Regions from separate parts of the Homo sapiens genome. Here all the other regions are reported to be linked to region 1. Evidence: microRNA targets listed by miRTarBase, many of them from high-throughput screens and not tested one by one. Region 1 holds a microRNA gene; each other region holds the end of a gene's coding sequence. Distances are from middle to middle.

Evidence for each region. The annotated mature microRNA hsa-miR-6778-3p reads UGCCUCCCUGACAUUCCACAG and lies in region 1 at 1,233-1,253, shown strand. An mRNA with a match to its seed (bases 2 to 7 or 8) in the 3' UTR can be bound and repressed. Matches are read on the target gene's strand: a 7mer-m8 pairs with bases 2 to 8, a 7mer-A1 pairs with bases 2 to 7 and ends in A, and an 8mer does both.
Region 2: the mRNA of RND2 is a reported target of hsa-miR-6778-3p. Seed matches in the 3' UTR shown: 7mer-A1 at 1,677-1,683, 7mer-m8 at 1,627-1,633, 7mer-m8 at 1,494-1,500, 7mer-m8 at 1,452-1,458 and 7mer-m8 at 267-273.
Region 3: the mRNA of KRABD2 is a reported target of hsa-miR-6778-3p. Seed matches in the 3' UTR shown: 7mer-A1 at 913-919, 7mer-A1 at 2,588-2,594 and 7mer-A1 at 2,828-2,834.
Region 4: the mRNA of IRGQ is a reported target of hsa-miR-6778-3p. Seed matches in the 3' UTR shown: 7mer-m8 at 2,152-2,158.
Region 5: miRTarBase lists MFSD2A as a target of hsa-miR-6778-3p. The part of its 3' UTR that is shown has no 7-base or 8-base seed match.

The regions. Positions count from the first base shown.
Region 1 is chr17:18,338,936-18,342,066 of GRCh38, reverse strand. MIR6778 (microRNA 6778) reads left to right here and starts at 1,181; the gene lies at 1,181-1,253. SHMT1 (serine hydroxymethyltransferase 1) reads left to right here. Exons shown (of 12, transcript NM_004169.5): 6 at 1,254-1,335; 7 at 1,812-2,024.
Region 2 is chr17:43,028,156-43,031,286 of GRCh38, reverse strand. It overlaps RND2 (Rho family GTPase 2), which reads right to left. Exons shown (of 5, transcript NM_005440.5): 4 at 3,092-3,131; 5 at 1-2,855. The coding sequence ends at 2,607. Among named protein-coding and RNA genes, the nearest start is that of RND2, 4.5 kb to the right of the region's middle.
Region 3 is chr17:8,366,510-8,369,640 of GRCh38, reverse strand. KRABD2 (KRAB domain containing 2) reads left to right here. Exons shown (of 2, transcript NM_001304947.3): 2 at 1-3,131. The coding sequence ends at 507. Among named protein-coding and RNA genes, the nearest start is that of KRABD2, 8.6 kb to the left of the region's middle.
Region 4 is chr19:43,589,262-43,592,392 of GRCh38, forward strand. It overlaps IRGQ (immunity related GTPase Q), which reads right to left. Exons shown (of 3, transcript NM_001007561.3): 3 at 1-3,131. The coding sequence ends at 2,765. Among named protein-coding and RNA genes, the nearest start is that of IRGQ, 5.3 kb to the right of the region's middle. RefSeq lists an enhancer at 473-562.
Region 5 is chr1:39,968,938-39,972,068 of GRCh38, reverse strand. It overlaps MFSD2A (MFSD2 lysolipid transporter A, lysophospholipid), which reads right to left. Exons shown (of 14, transcript NM_032793.5): 14 at 2,113-2,564. The coding sequence ends at 2,501. Among named protein-coding and RNA genes, the nearest start is that of MFSD2A, 15 kb to the right of the region's middle.

The sequences.
Region 1 (3,131 bases):
CAAGTTCTTAAGATATAGATTCACAAGTGGGATTGCTGAATATGGAATTGATTTGTGTGGGTGAGGCGGGCATCCAGATAACATTTTTGTCCAAATGGATGCCCAGTTGACCTAGTGCCATTGATTGAAAAGGTCATCCTCTCCCCACTGCACTGCAGCGTCACCACTGGCATGGATCCAATGACCTGTGTTGTGTGTGGTTCTGCTTCTGGTTAAGCCAGATGCTCTGCCCTTCCATGAATGCGTGCTGCCTTAATTACTATAATTTGTCAAGCATTTTGTGACACAAAATACACAACGCAATGATGTTTTGTGTAAAGGTTTGGTATGATTTTCCTTTTATGGTTTTTGTTATTTACATTTCATTTTCTATCTTTCTTGCTTTTATATACTTTTTGGCTTTTTTTTTTTTTTTTTTTCAGATGGAGTCTCGCTCTGTTGCCCAGGCTGGAGTGCTGGAGTGCAGTGGCACAATCTCGGCTCACTGCAAGCTCCACCTCCCGGGTTCACGCCATTCTCCTGCCTCAGCCTCCCAAGTAGCTGGGATTACAGGCGCCCGCCACCATATCTGGCTAATTTTTTGCATTTTTAGTAGAGACGGGGTTTCACCGTGTTAGCCAGGATGGTCTCGATCTCCTGACCTCATGATCTGCCCGTCTCAGCCTCCCAAAGTGCTGGGATTACAGGTGTGAGCCACCGCGCCCAGCCCCTACTTCTTGTTTTTCAATGTTGTATCCAGTGACCTTGCTAAATTTGCTTATTCTAACAGTTGGCCCCTAGCATCTTGATTTTCTAGGTATATTGTGTTGTCTGTGTGTAATGTCAGTTTTTAAATTTCTTCTTTCCTAATCGTTATGCCTTTTGTTTCTTTTTCTTGCCTCATTATACTTGGAATAGAAGTAGTATTAGCAGGCATTTTGGTCTTGTTCCTGAAGGTAACCATTTTGGTTTCCATTGTGTGGTCCCGTCACATTTGTTTCATTCTGCAGGTGCTTTTTGGTTCCTTCTCAGCAGGTAGTGCCCCAGCAGCAGGGCTCACTACAACCCTGGGACTCCTCAGGGACTCCTGGGTCTGTGAGCCATACTTGGTTGAGCAGGCTGAACACACCAGTATCCATCCTGTCTCACCCTCAAGTCCTCATCTAGGACATCATTCCTCTTGTCATGGTGGGTGGAGCCAGTTCAAGTGGGAGGACAGGAGGCAGGTGTGGTTGGAGGAAGCAGCCTGAACCTGCCTCCCTGACATTCCACAGGTGAACCCAGATACTGGCTACATCAACTATGACCAGCTGGAGGAGAACGCACGCCTCTTCCACCCGAAGCTGATCATCGCAGGTGATGCGCGGGGCGGAAAGTCACCTTGTTCACCAGTAGCCTGGTGCCTCTTACAGAATGAGGATGGAAAGATGTTCGCACCCTGTTGAGCCCACTGCTAGTTTCTGCCCTGGATAACTGAGTTTCTGGGGTCTACATATATTAGTTTCTTTCAGGATACAGATGTGTGTTTGCTGCTTTTTGTGCTATGTAGATTAAGATGTGAGACTGTTCTCAGAGAAGCATCTAGAAATGTCAGGCCCTGACTGCGCTGGCAATAGTAGTTGGGGCCATCTCAACCACCAAGACGTTGAAGAGTTAGAGTGGTTGCCTTTAGCACAGAGGTGCTTTTTGAGGGCATTCTCCATTTTTGCTCTGAGACTTTAAGGGAAGAAATCTCTGGGCTTTCAGATCTGCACATCTAGAGGCCACTGTGAAGCCAACTCAGCTGGCCGGTGGACATCTCTGATGCAGCTGTGTCACCTTTCCTGTCTCAGGAACCAGCTGCTACTCCCGAAACCTGGAATATGCCCGGCTACGGAAGATTGCAGATGAGAACGGGGCGTATCTCATGGCGGACATGGCTCACATCAGCGGGCTGGTGGCGGCTGGCGTGGTGCCCTCCCCATTTGAACACTGCCATGTGGTGACCACCACCACTCACAAGACCCTGCGAGGCTGCCGAGCTGGCATGATCTTCTACAGGAAAGGTGAGCTCCCGAATGTTGGGTACAGATGGGTACCATGGTTTACATTTCTCCTGTGGGGGTTCAGATTCAGTTGAGGGAGCTGGGAAAAACTCTGACCTGGGATCCTTGGAAAATATTAAGATCCCAGTCCCTTAAAGAGCTGCTTAGGAAGGAGCAGTGACAGGCTTTACAGAAAGGATTCCCGGCCAGGTGAGGTGGCTCGCGCCTGTAATCCCAGCACTTTGGGAGGCCGAAGCGGGCAGATCACGAGGTCAGGAGATCAAGACCATCCTGGCTAACACGGTGAAACCCCGTCTCTACTAAAAACACGAAAAATTAGCCGAGTGTGGTGGTGGGCACCTGTAGTCCCAGCTACTCAGGAGGCGAAGGCAGGAGAATGGCGTGAGCCTGGGAGGTGGAGCTTGCAGTGAGCTGAGATTGTGCCACTGTACTCCAGCCTGGGCGACAGAGCGAGATGCCGTCTCAAAAAAAAAAAAAGAAAGAAAGAAAGGAATCCCCAGAAGGAGACTGTCAGCCACAGCTCCTGCTTCACTTTTGTGCATCCAGGTCCTAGGAACATAGGAGGGGGATCAGCAACCACTATGTGTTAGGATGGCGCCGGTTGCTGAACTCGAGAGGCAGGTGTTTGAATGAAAGGAGGGTGCATGGCTGGCTGGGGGCCACTGGGAGGCCTCACAAGGCTGCATTATTCTGGTGAACTTACAGTGATCCATCATGTTTCTCAAAGAGAAAGACTCATAGTAGTCAAACTAGAAGACATGGATGTATAAACATTAATATCATTTTAGTGAAGGTTTTTCTTTCCATTACCTCATAACCTACCCCTAGGCACTCCCCTTATTTTCGAATTCCCATACCTGGGAAAGCCTGTTAGTGGTCAGGTCATCATTTAGCCTGTGGTGAGACCTGATGCGCCAACTTTGCATCAGCAGAGACACCAGCCCTCTGGTGACTACATTACTCTTTTTTTTTTTTTTTTTTTTTTTTTTTTTTAGTATTTATTGATCATTCTTGGGTGTTTCTCGTGGAGGGGGATTTGGCAGGGTCATAGGACAATAGTGGAGGGAAGGTCAGCAGATAAACAAGTGAACAAGGGTCTCTGGTTTT
Region 2 (3,131 bases), 25 Mb from region 1:
ATCTTTGAGACTGGCTGAGATGAACTAGTCCCATAGGAGAGGTTGGGATAGGGATATCTGATGATCCAGGGAGTGGTGGGTAGGGATTCCTTTCCTCTCAAGACTGGAACCTGGCATAAGGGAAAGGAGAAGCTATTTTTTATTTTTTATTTTTTAATTTTTTTTAGAGACAGGGTCTCACTCTGACACTCAGGCTGGAAGACAATGGCATGATCATAGCTCACTGCAGTCTCTAACTCCTGGCCTCAAGCGATCCTCCCAGCTTGGCCTCCCAAAGGAGGAATCTTGGCTGGGATTATAGGTGTGAGCCACTGCCGAGAAGCTATTATTTTAAATGACACACCTCAGAGCCAAATCTCCCAGCTCCAACACCACATCCAGATAACCATCTATCCAAAAAACAACTCTGATCACTTCACTCTCTGCCTGAAATTCCTGGTGGCTTCATCCTCTGAGGATGATTTCATTCATCCTCAGAATGAAATTCTGATTCCTCTGTGGACCCTGCAGTAGCCTCAGTGTACCTTCCTAGCCTTGTCTTCTATTCTCCCTGCCATGGGAGCCCCAACAGTGCTATGCTCATTCTCATCTCCACGTGTTTACACATGCTGTACCCTCTGCCCAGAGTGCCTTTCCTACCCCTTCCCTGCCCGGAAAACTCCTCTTCAACCCTCAGGACCTGGCTCACAGGACTGGCTTCTCAGGCTGCAAGGAGCTCCCATAGCATCCCATACATGTACAAATATCCCTCAGCCATGGCACCCTCACACCTGAGGTACCTCTCTTCCACACTGGGCTGGCCTCCAAAAGCTTAGAGACTGGTCCTTGCAATCTCCCAAGCCAGTGTATGCCACACAGTTGGTGTTCAGTACATACTTGCTGAATGAATGAATGAGGGAGGAATGGGCTATAAATTTGGGTGGGATCCCAGCAGATAGTTGGGTAAGGTCAGTGTTCTCTTCCAGTGTGTCTGGGAGAACTGGCTAGGGCTGGGGGAGGGAAGGGCCAGGGATGGTTCCTGGGGGAGAATGTCACCGAAAAGAGGCCAGTGGGACCAGAGCCAGGAAGGGAATACAGGACAATCTGAAACCAGACTCCCGAGAAAACAGACCAGTACTGTCTTTCCTGACAACAGGCGCTCAGCCGTCCTCTCCACCGTCTTTCCTTTAAGGGACAGGGTAGGGGTGACTCTAACAGCTGATGCTCCCCTGAAAGCCATCATGAAACTCAGCATGGGAGGAGAGAAAGGTCCCTGGCCTGAGCCTCTAAGGAGACCCCAGAATCAAACTACTGACCTCTTAGGAAACTTCACGCTGTACAGGGGTAGCTTCTGTGATGTGGAGGCTTTTGATGCCTTCTTTTTTTTTTTTTTTTTTTTTTTTGGAGACAGAGTCTTGCTCTGTCATCCAGGCTAGAATGCAGTGGCGCAATCTCGGCTCACTGCAAGCTCCGCCTCCCAGGTTCACCCGGGTTCACACCATTCTCCTGCCTCAGCCTCCCGAGCAGCTGGGACTACAGGCACTGCCACCGCGCCTGGCTAATTTTTTGTATTTTTAGTAGAGATGGGGTTTCACCGTGTTAGCCAGGATGGTCTCGATCTCCTGAACTTGTGATCCGCCCACCTCGGCCTCCCAAAGTGCTGGGATTACAGGCGTGAGCCAGCGCGCCCGGCCTGATGCCTCCTTATCCCCACAACCCCCAGGGTACCAGCAGGCTCCAAGCCAGGGGTACAGATGGTGAGCAGGACCCCTCCCACACTAGCAGCAGGCCTGGCTGGGCTGAGAAATGCTGACTAATTATATGTCGGTCTGCTCTAAAACCCCCTAATGGCCTGAGAATTGCCCACTTCATTAACTAGGATGAACAGTCCCAGGATGTCTCCTTCTCCCAACTCTGACTCCTAAAAGGACACTTCTGATCCAACCTATGGCTTTGTCCTCTGCTCTATCTGTGGACATGGACAGGAAAGTTCCCCAGCTGAGGTCTAACTTTCCCTCTTACTGCTAAAGATTGGTAGATTGATTTTTTTAAAAAGCAACAAAACTAAAGCCACAGCCGTTTTCCATGGAGGTGGGCTTTATTAGGTGACTGTTGAGGCAAGGGAGGTTCTAGGGCTGGTGGACTGATGGGGGGCAAGGGCTTCTCCTTGCTTTTGAATTTAGTGCATGTTGCCTAGAGGTTAGATGTGTGAGAATAGCTGCAGAAGTGAGAGGAGAGGAAAAGAGAAGGTCATAGAATGGACATTTTCCTTGGGCCAGAACCAGGATATGGGGACTGGGGGTGGAGAGGGAGGGTACTCTTCACATAGGAGACTCCACCAAGGTCACCATTTGATACCAGCTTCCCTAACGCCCACCTGCCCCATCCCAGTTCATGCCCCAGATGCCAGCCCTGTTAGCTCCCTCAACATCCACTGGAGAAGAGGAGGGAGGAGGAGATGAGAAACGATGATACCCTTCTGCCCTCCAGCTCCCCTGCCCAGAATTGCTCGCTCTGCCTGCCCTAACTTCCCAGCCAGGATCAGGAGGTCAGGAAGCCTGGGCGCAGGCAGGGGAACAATTGTGTCCCTCACCACCCCTCTTCACACTCTGCCCTCTCCTAGCCCCTCACATGAGGTTGCAGCTTTTGGCTCGATCCTTGTGTATCTCGCCCTCATTCCCCCGGTCTGGCCGTCCTGACAGCTGAGCGGATCGCTGCATTCCCCGGCGTGAGTCAGTTCGGCGCAGCTGCCTATGGCCACGGCCAAGGGAGGCCACTGTAGCCACATGGAAGACATCCCTGACGCTGCGCTCAGAGGACCGGGAGGAGCACTCAACATAGGACACAGCCCCCACCTGCTTGGCCAGCACAGTGCCCTGGAAAAGGAAGGAGTGCATGGGAGAAAGTTATAGGTCTTAGCCTGCAGCTTAGAAAGGGGCATGGAGGCTGTGGGCTGGGGTTGAATGTCAAGGCTGGGGGCAGTCAAGGGATCAGGTCAGAGGTCACAGACCAGAACAAAGGATGAGCCAGGTAAGGTGTTTTCAAATCAGAGACTGAAGGGGCAGAGGTGACAGGTCTAGGCTGGGATGAGGTCAGACGTCAAGGGTCCCACCTGCTCATGTGTAACAGGGATAAGCCTCTGCTTGGACAGC
Region 3 (3,131 bases), 10 Mb from region 1:
GACAGTGGCGTTGAGTTCACAAACCAGGTTGTTCATGAGCTCAATGAGTTGTGGCCAGACCTAAAGATTGTATCTGGTAAGTACCACCCTGGCCAAAGCCAGGGCTCCCTGGAAGGAGCAAGCCGTGATGTAAAGAACATGATAAGTACCTGGATGCAGAGTAACCACTCATGTCACTGGGCCAAAGGCCTCCGATTCATGCAGATGGTGAGGAATCAGGCTTTCGACGTTTCCTTGCAGCAAAGTCCATTTGAGGCAATGTTTGGCTATAAAGCCAAATTTGGGCTATATTCCTCAAACTTGCCCCGGGAAACTGTGGCTACTTTACAAACGGAAGAAGAGCTAGAAATTGCTGAAGAACAGCTAGAAAATAGCCTTTGGATCAGGCAGGAAGAAAGGGCTGAGATTGGAGCAGACAGATCTGATATGGACGATGACATGGATCCCACTCCTGAAGCTTCAGAACCCAGCACCTCACAAGGGACTTCCGGTCTCCTCTGCTGGTGAACAGATGGCTGCTGGGTGGACAGTCACAGGTGTCTCTCTGAGCATAGTCATCTGAGAACTGTTGCCAGAGGCCCCAGAGGAAAAGATTGAAGGCTGCACTCTCAGGTCAAGTTGTACATGGCAGTCCTTGCTCAAAAAGACAAAAGTTCAGGTCTGTGTATTTATTCTTAGGGCTGCCATAAAAAATTACCACAACCTGGCCGGGCGCAGCGCTCATGCCCGTAATCCCAGCACTTTGGTAGGCCAAGGTGGGCGGGTCACTTGAGATCAGGAGTTCAAGACTAGCCTGGCCAACATGATGAAACCCTGTCTCTACTGAAAATATAGAAATTAGCCAGGCTTGGAGCTGTGTGCCTGTAATCCCAGCTAACCAGGAGGCTGAGGCAGGAGAATCACTTGAACCCAGGAGGCAGAGGTTGCAGTGAGCCGAGACCATGCCACTGCACTCCGGCCTGGGTGACAAAGCAAGACTCTGTCTCAAAAAAAAAAAAAAAAAATTACCACCACATGGGTGACTTAACAGAAATTGAGTCTCACAGTTCTGGAGGCCCAAAGTCTGAAATTAAAGTGTTAGTAAGGTAGGTTCTTTCTGGAGGCTCTGGGGGAGAATCCATTCCATGCCTTTCTCCTTTCTCTAGTGGCCATCGGCAATCCTTGGCAGTCCTTGGCTTGTGACAGTGTAAGTCCAGTCTCTGCTTCTATCTTCATGTGGCCTTCTCCCCTGAGAAGGCCATAATTTTTTATGGCAGCCCTAAGAATAAATACACAGACCCGAACTTTTCCCTTATTAAGCAAGGACTACCATATACAACTTGACTTGAAATACACAGGAATACCTGTGTGTATTCTTTCCTGTCTCTTGTAAAGACATCACTGGACACCAAATCCATGTCACTGGATTTAGGGCCCACTCTAATGAGGATGATCTCATCTCGAGATCCTTACCTTAATTAGATCAGCGAATACTCTTTCCAAGTAAGGTGACATTCACAGGTACTAGGGACCTGAACTTGAACTTATTTATTTATTTTTTTTTTCATTTTTTTAGAGATAGGGTCTCCTTATATTGCCCAGGCTGGTCTCAAACTCCTGGGCCCAAGGGATTGGCCTCCCAAAGTGCTAGGATTACAGGCACACGCCACCACACCCAACCAGGACTTTTTTTTTTTTTTTTTTGCTCTTAACTTTTTTTTTTTTTTTTTAATTGATCATTCTTGGGTGTTTCTTGCAGAGGGGGATTTGGCAGGGTCACAGGACAATAGTGGAGGGAAGGTCAGCAGATAAACAATGGATTAAGGGCGGTGCAAGATGTGCTTTGTTAAACAGATGCTTGAAGGCAGCATGCTCCTTAAGAGTCATCACCACTCCCTAATCTCAAGTACCCAGGGACACAAACACTGCGGAAGGCCGCAGGGTCCTCTGCCTAGGAAAACCAGAGACCTTTGTTCACTTGTTTTTTTTTTTTTTTTTTGAGACAGGGTCTCGCTCTGTCACTGAGGCTGGAGTGCAGTGGCACAATCTGGGCTCACTGCAGCCTCTGCCTCCCCAGTTCAAGCAATTCTCCTGCCTCAGCCTCCCCAGTAGCTGGGACTACAGGCGTGCACTGCCACACCTGGCTAATTTTTTTTTTTTTTGGAGACAGAATCTCACTCTGTCGCCCAGGCTGGAGTGCAGTGGCATGATCTGGGCTCACTGCAGCCTCCGCCTCCCAGGTTTAAGCGATTCTCCTGCCTCAGCCTCCTGAGTAGCTGGGACTACAGGCACGCACCCCCACGAACCCAGCTAATTTTTGTATTTTTAGTAGAGACGGGGTTTCACTATGTTAGCCAGGATGGTCTCGATCTCCTGACCTCGTGATCCACCTGCCTCTGCCTCCCAAAGTGCTGGGATTACAGGCGTGAGCCACCACGCGCGGCCAGACTTACCTTTTTAAGAGACACACTTCTCATTGTAGTCAATAGAAGTATATGTCTGCAAAACAAGAACTGATGGATGAGGTCTCAAGAATGTAAAGCTGGTGGGACTGCCCTAGATATATCTAATACATATTCCTGCCCCTCAGACACATACTCTAAAACATGGAGGCATCACAGGAAAATAAGTAGATGAAGGAAGGCTGGGCACGGTGGCTCATGCCTGTAATCCCAGCACTTTGGAGGCTTAGGCGGCCGATCACTTGAGGTCAGGGGTTCGAGACCCGCCTGGCCAACATGGTGAAACCCCGTCTTTACAAAAATGCAAAGTATTAGCCGGGCACGGTGGCATGCACCTGTAATCCTGGCTACTCAGGAGCCTGAGGTAGGAAGATCCCTTGAACCTAGGAGGCAGAGGTTGCAGTGAGCCGAGATCATGCCACTGCACTCCAGCCTGGGCGACAGAGCAAGGCTCTATCTCAGAAAAAAAAAAAGTAGATGAAGGAAAAGTAATAGGAAGAAACAAGGTTCATCTAAGATGCCCTAGAGACTGGCCACCTTACCAACTGGGCTCTGTTTCCCGCTTCAGGAGAAACTGTATGTGCCATCCCTTTTCTCAGAGCATTATGCACAGATAATTGTGTAACTGCATGAAACATATATTAAAATTAGGTCAGAAGTAAAGTATGGTTGGAATTTGGGTATGCGTCT
Region 4 (3,131 bases), not on the chromosome of region 1:
AAGAGATTAACAATCTAAATTCCAATCCTAGTTCTGACACTGACCAATGAAATAAACATTTAGGCTGGGTGTGGTGGCTCACACCTGTAATCCCATCAAGGCAGGAGGATCACTTGAGGCCAGGAGTTCAACACTAGTGTGGGCTACAAAGCAAGACCCCCGTCTCTACAGAAAATTTGGTGCTGTGTACCTATAGTCCCAGCTACTCTGTAGGCGGAGGTGGGAGGATCGTTTGAGCCCAGGAGTTGGAGATGGCAGTGAGCCATGATCATCCCACTGTATTCCAGCCGGGGCAACAGAGCAAGACCCTGTCTCTAAAATAATAATAATAATAATAAATATTTACGAAGCACCTATTGTGTCAGGCACCTATTGTTCTAGATGCTGGGGAAACAACAGAGAACAGGACAGGCAACGGGTCAAAAGCCAATAAACAGGTAAATAAATAAGATCATTTTTGACAGTAATAATTGCTACAAGGAAACTCAACTGGCCGAAATGAATAGTGGGGGAATGTGAGCTACTTCAGATAGGGTGGTCAGGGAGGGGAAGTCCTCTCTGAGGGGATACGTGAGCTGAGATCTGACTGAGCCCGTCACAGGAAGGTTTGAGAGTAGAACAGGAAGTTGTGAGTAGAGCCTTGAAGGAAAGAGAACAGCAGGTGCATGGGTCCCCAGGCAGGACTCAAGGTAGCCACTCAGGCATCAGAAAGAGTCAGGCGGCCATGATGGCTCACACCTGTAATCCCAGCACTTTGGGAGTCTGAGTCGGGTGGATCACCTGAGGTCAGGAGTTCGAGACCAGCCTGACCAACAGGGTGAAATCCCTTCTCTACTAAACTACAAAAATTAGCCAGGTGTGGTGGCACATGCCTGTCATCTCAGCTACAGTCATCACATCCCTGTACTCCAGACTGGGTGACAAGGTGAGACTCCATTTCAAAAAAAAAAAGAAGGAAAGTCTATCAGGCTGGACAGGAGTGGGAAGGGGCAGTGAATGAGAATAGGCAAGGGCCAGACCCACAGGGCCTTACTGTGTGCTGTTGGGCCTCAAGCCTGCCCTCTCTGGACTTTGCTCTTTCTGTCTACGACAAAAGGGATTCTATCGCTTGGATTCTCAGATCCTCCTTTTCTGTTTTTGACACTGAAGAATTCTGTAACCTGCAACTTTTCCCCCACATGTGGCTAGCAGCCTAGAACATTCCAGGCACTGTGGTTTCTGCCTTTGCTTCATTCACTCCTGGCATATTCCCATGGTCTCAAGTGCCTGACCACCCATTTGGTGGGCCCCTGGCTCAATGCAGCACCCTCTATGTACATCAGAAAGCAGAGCCTCTTGGGGATACCCGAGGTGTCCATACAGAAGTGTTTGGACCAGTGCAGCAGTACAGCTGCTCTTCTGAAAAGGAAGGTGCACAAAACACCAAGGCCATAAAGGGTTATGGTTAAATACCAGGAGAAAAAGGCCAAAAAAAGATAGAAACTCCTAAAGAAAAGAGACAGAGAAACAGACTCCCCAGAGATCACCTGAATTGCTCAGCACCTAGAAGATGAAGGCAGTCATATCCCTTCCCAGTCACACTCACAGAGGCAGTTGCCGGGATCCCAATACAAGGTTTGGAGGAGCTGTCTCTGAGGTATGCTTTACTGCCCTTCCACACCCAAAAGACCTCATTCCTGGTCCCTGGCTACTCCCAGAGCCCACCATGCCCAGACCTCTTACCCACCTCACCTCATTTTTGTGGGACCACCCTCCCTACATGCTTTTGGAGGGCAATTATAGAAACCCATCCACTCCCCAGGAGAGATCAAGAAGTCTCCAGCTTTCTCGCACAAGCCCCCGATCCCTCCTCCAGATGCAGACCTCCCCTTACCCAATATTTAGGAACCAAGGTCCACAGCCATCTTAGAACCCCGGAAGTCTCAGACCCCAGGGGCCTCCGCCACCCCATCAAGATTCAAAGCCCACTGCTCCTTGGGGACCTGTGTGCAGGCTTTTTCTCCCAGAGAAATGTAGACCCTGTTTCCCTCTGAGGCTCTGAAGCCCAAGAGTTCCAGCTCCCTGGGGCGCTCAGGTCTCCCTCCCCTATACTGGAGTTCAGGTCCCAGTCATGGACACCTCCCCACCAATTAGGAAACAGGACTTCTACCAGCCTCCCTGGAGGACTAAACATCCAGTAACTCCAGTTTCTACTCCCTAGGAGACAAAGACATAGTCCCTGCTAGAGTCTGGGCCACCAACTCCCTTCAGGACAGAAGGGTCTAGATGTCATTCACCATGGTTCCCAAAGGTATCAGGATTCCTGGCCAGGGGCGGTGGCTCACGCCTGTAATCCTAGCACTTTGGGAGGCCGGAGCGGGTCGATCGCCTGAGGTCAGGAGTTCGAGGCCAGCCTGGCCAACATGGTGAAACCCCGTCTCTACTAAAAATACAAAAATTAGCCAGGTGTGGTGGCAGGCACCTGTAATCCCAGCTACTCCGGACGCTGAGGCAGGAGAATCGCTTGAACCCGGGAGGCGGAGGTTGCAGTGAGCCGAGGTCGCGCCATTGCACTCCAGCCTGGGCAACAAGAGACTTCGTCTCACAAAAAAAAGAAAAAAAAAAAAAAAAATCAGGATTCCTGTCCCCCAGACTCTCTGAATCCAGGTGATAAGAAGTCACACATCCCAGCTGGAAGTCAAGAGTCCACATCCCCTTCAAGCACCCAGGATTAAGCCCAGGCATCCCCTGTCAGAGTCTGGACTCCCAAGCCCCCTCCCACTCCTCACTGGGCAGGCTCAGGGGGTGCCAGCACAGCCTCAGCATCAGCCCGCATCTCATCGAGAGCCTGCAGCAGGACGCCGTGAGCCGCTCGGTAGCCCAGGCCACCTGTCGCCGCTGCACCACCCGCAGGCCACAGGAAGGAGAGAGCCCCCAGTGCTGCGCCCCCAGCAGTGCCCTCGCCCGCCCAGGCGCCCAGTCTTGCTTCCACCTCGGCGCGCGTCACCGGGCCTGGGAAATGAGCGCGCGCTGCCAGCTCTCCAGAAGCCAGGCCCAGGGCACGCTCACGTCGAGCCAGTGCCGTGGGTTCCAGCCCCAGGCCCCGTCGCCACTCCGCCAGCTGACCCCGCAGAAGTGCCACGTCGCATGCC
Region 5 (3,131 bases), not on the chromosome of region 1:
TGGAGTGCAATGGCATGGTCTCAGCTCTTTGCAACCTCCGCCTCCCAGGTTCAAGCCATTCTCCTGCCCTCAGCCTCCCAAGTAGCTGGGATTACAGGCATGTGCTACCACGCCTGGCTAGTTTTGTTTTTGTTTGTTGGTTTTTGGTTTGTTTCTGTTTTGAGACTGGTTCTCTCTGTCCCCCAGGCTGGAGTGCAATGGCGCGATCTCAGCTCACTGCAACTGCTGCCTCCTGGGTTCAAGCGATTCTCCTGCCTCCGCCTCCTGAGTAGCTGAGATTACAGGCATGCACCACCACACCTGGCTAATTTTTGTATTTTTAGTAGAGACGGGGTTTCACCATGTTGGCCAGGCTGGTCTCGAACTCCTGACCTCAGGTGATCTGCCCGCCTCGGCCTCCCAAAGTGCTGGGATTACAGGCGTGAGCCACTGCGCCCAGCTGAAAACTTTAATTTTTTTTTTTTTTTAAAGACAGGACTTGGTGGTTACTGGTTAGAGTGGAGGGAGAGAGGAGGTATAAGTGGGCTTCTATAAACATTATCTCAGAGTCTCTGAGCAGGCCAGCTCCAGAGGCCATAACAGACTCTAGGCTCCTGCCTTGCCCAGACAGCCTGACATGAGATGGCTGATACAAAGACAGTGTGTGACTTGCCTTGGTGTTGACAAAACCATTGGTTCACCTAACAGCCTTAAGTAGTGGTTAAGAGCCCAGGCACTATAGCCAACCTCGATTCAAGTATCAGCTCTTCCAGTGACTGTCCAATGACCTTGAGCAGGTTACTTAACTTTTCCCTGCGTCAGTTTCCTTATCTCTTAACGTGAGGATGACAATAATACCTTCCTCATAGGGAAGTTCTGACAACTATCTGAAGACTAACTGAATTCATACTTATTACACACATGTAACCATGCCTGTTAGTAACGCTTAATGTAATTTATCAAAGTAACCTGGCAGAACTTCATCAGTAAAAATGGTGGACCTCCCTCCCACCCAAAACGGAGCCCCACACTCAAGGTAAGAACCAAGCCAGAATAGCCTAAGAGCCTCTCTTGTCTGGGCCTCATTTATCTATTTATAAAATCAGGAGATTTGACTAGTAGCTCCTGATCCTGCCAGCTTTGCCTTCTTGTGATTTTGGGGGCTTGGCCTAAGTGTGAGACCCAGTGGTGTGTTAGGCAAGCTCCTACCAGCTTGTAAAAGCCAACTACTAAATGTTTAGGAAATGTTCAAATGAACAACCATGGATAACTTGAAATTGGCTATGGTGGGAGTTATTCATACCATGGAAGTTAGCCAAGTGCTCCCAACTAGGCCTTCCCCACCACCCTGTTCCCTACCGGAGGTGTTTGGTTTTTTTTTGTCACCAGTGCGTCTGTGGTAAAATCCTCCCTCATCTGATACACACATCCAGCAGGTACATTCTCACCTTTCAATACCATCAGTAACAGTTGTGGAGAAAGAACCACCAGTCTCCAGGGACCCCACAGGCCTCCAGCCCCACCAGCCCTGCAGGCTCAGGCATGCACCAGGCAGGAAGCACAGTGTACAGGCACACCCAGAGCAAGCATCTGTCTGCCGGTCCCCTGGTCATTCTCAGACACAAGGAAGTAGACAGTGGCGATTACGGTATTGGAGTCTTACAGAGTTGGGATAAAATTCCAGTTAGGTCACTAAAGGCTGCGTGACTTTAGCTAAATCCCTCTCTACACTAGGGTGTTCTTATCTTTCAAATAAGAACAGTCTTGACTTAGCAAGAGGCCAGGTGTAGTGGTTCACACCTGTAATCCCACTACTTTGGGAGGCTAATGCAGGAGGATTGCTTGAGTCCAGTGAGAAGGATTGGCCTGGGCAACATAGTGAAACCTCCATCTCTACAAAAAAATTTAAAAATCAGCCAGGCGTGGTGGTGCATGCCTGTAGTCCCAGCTACTCGAGAGGGTGAAGCAGAAGGAAGGATTGCCTGAGCCGAGATTGCGCCACTGCACTCCAGCCACAACTCCAGACATGTTCGCCCCCACCCAGTAGCACCTGGGGCTCAGTGTGTTCTCTAACGGAGTCTTAAGGCAGAAGGGCTCAGTGAGTGGCTGAGGACACAGACAGAAACAGGCAGCTGCTTTCCAGCTTTTATGAAAATTAATAACATTAATAGCTCACAGACATATACATACACACACATTGCTATGTACACAGTCATTAAGTTATTAATTAGGCTCTGTAAAAAAAAAGGTTTCTACATTAGTGTTCCGGGCTAGGCCCGATCAGTCCTTGGCATATTCACAGTGGCAGCCCCAGGGCTTGGCCCCACAGGCAGGCAGAGGGGAGGCAGGAGGCCACAGAGCAGCCGGCCCCACAGTGAGCACAGCAAGTGTCCTGGGCCACCTCCTTGAGTCTTCAGTTCCCTTCCTAGCACCTGCAGTCCAGCTGCTCAGCAAGCCGGCAGACAGGTCCTGATCCCTTCTGTGGCCTTCTGCATGGTGGCTTCGGGCAACGTGGCGGGCCCTAGAGGATGCTAGCCAGCTCTGTGGAGTCTGTTTCTGAGCAGCCAGAGCTGCTGGCCTCGTCCCTGCAAGAGAGAGAGGAGATGGGTTGGAGGAAGCATCCATCCTTACCCCTCCTCAGCCCCACCTGCCTCCTTCCTCACGTGATCTTGGCCCTGCTGTCGGACTAAAGTGAACCGCGGGACACAGAGTTTGCTCACTCCCACTTTCAACTGTTGGTTGGTCTGTTTACTGTCCTTGCTGCACACAGGGTACTGCAAACCCTAGATCTACACTCTCGCCTGGGCTGGCTGACGGGCTGGCATGACTCACTCCAGCCTGCCCACTGGTTTCCCCAGATGCAGGGTCAGGCCACACTCGAGGTCCTATATGCCAGGAGGCTGATGAAGAGTGCAGTCTCTGGAGCCGGAATGCTGAGGCTCAAACCCCAGCTCCGCCCCTTTCAGCTGGGCCAGGTACTCTTCCTGCTGAAACCTCAACTTCTTCACCTGCAGAGGGGGAACCCTAAGAACCTGATACTTAGGGTTGTTGGAGGGGTATGGGAGGTGATGGATACACACGTCCTATAACAGGCTCCTTAAGGACAGAGATTTTTGTCTTGTTCACTAGAGCAGTCAATGCCTAGCACATAG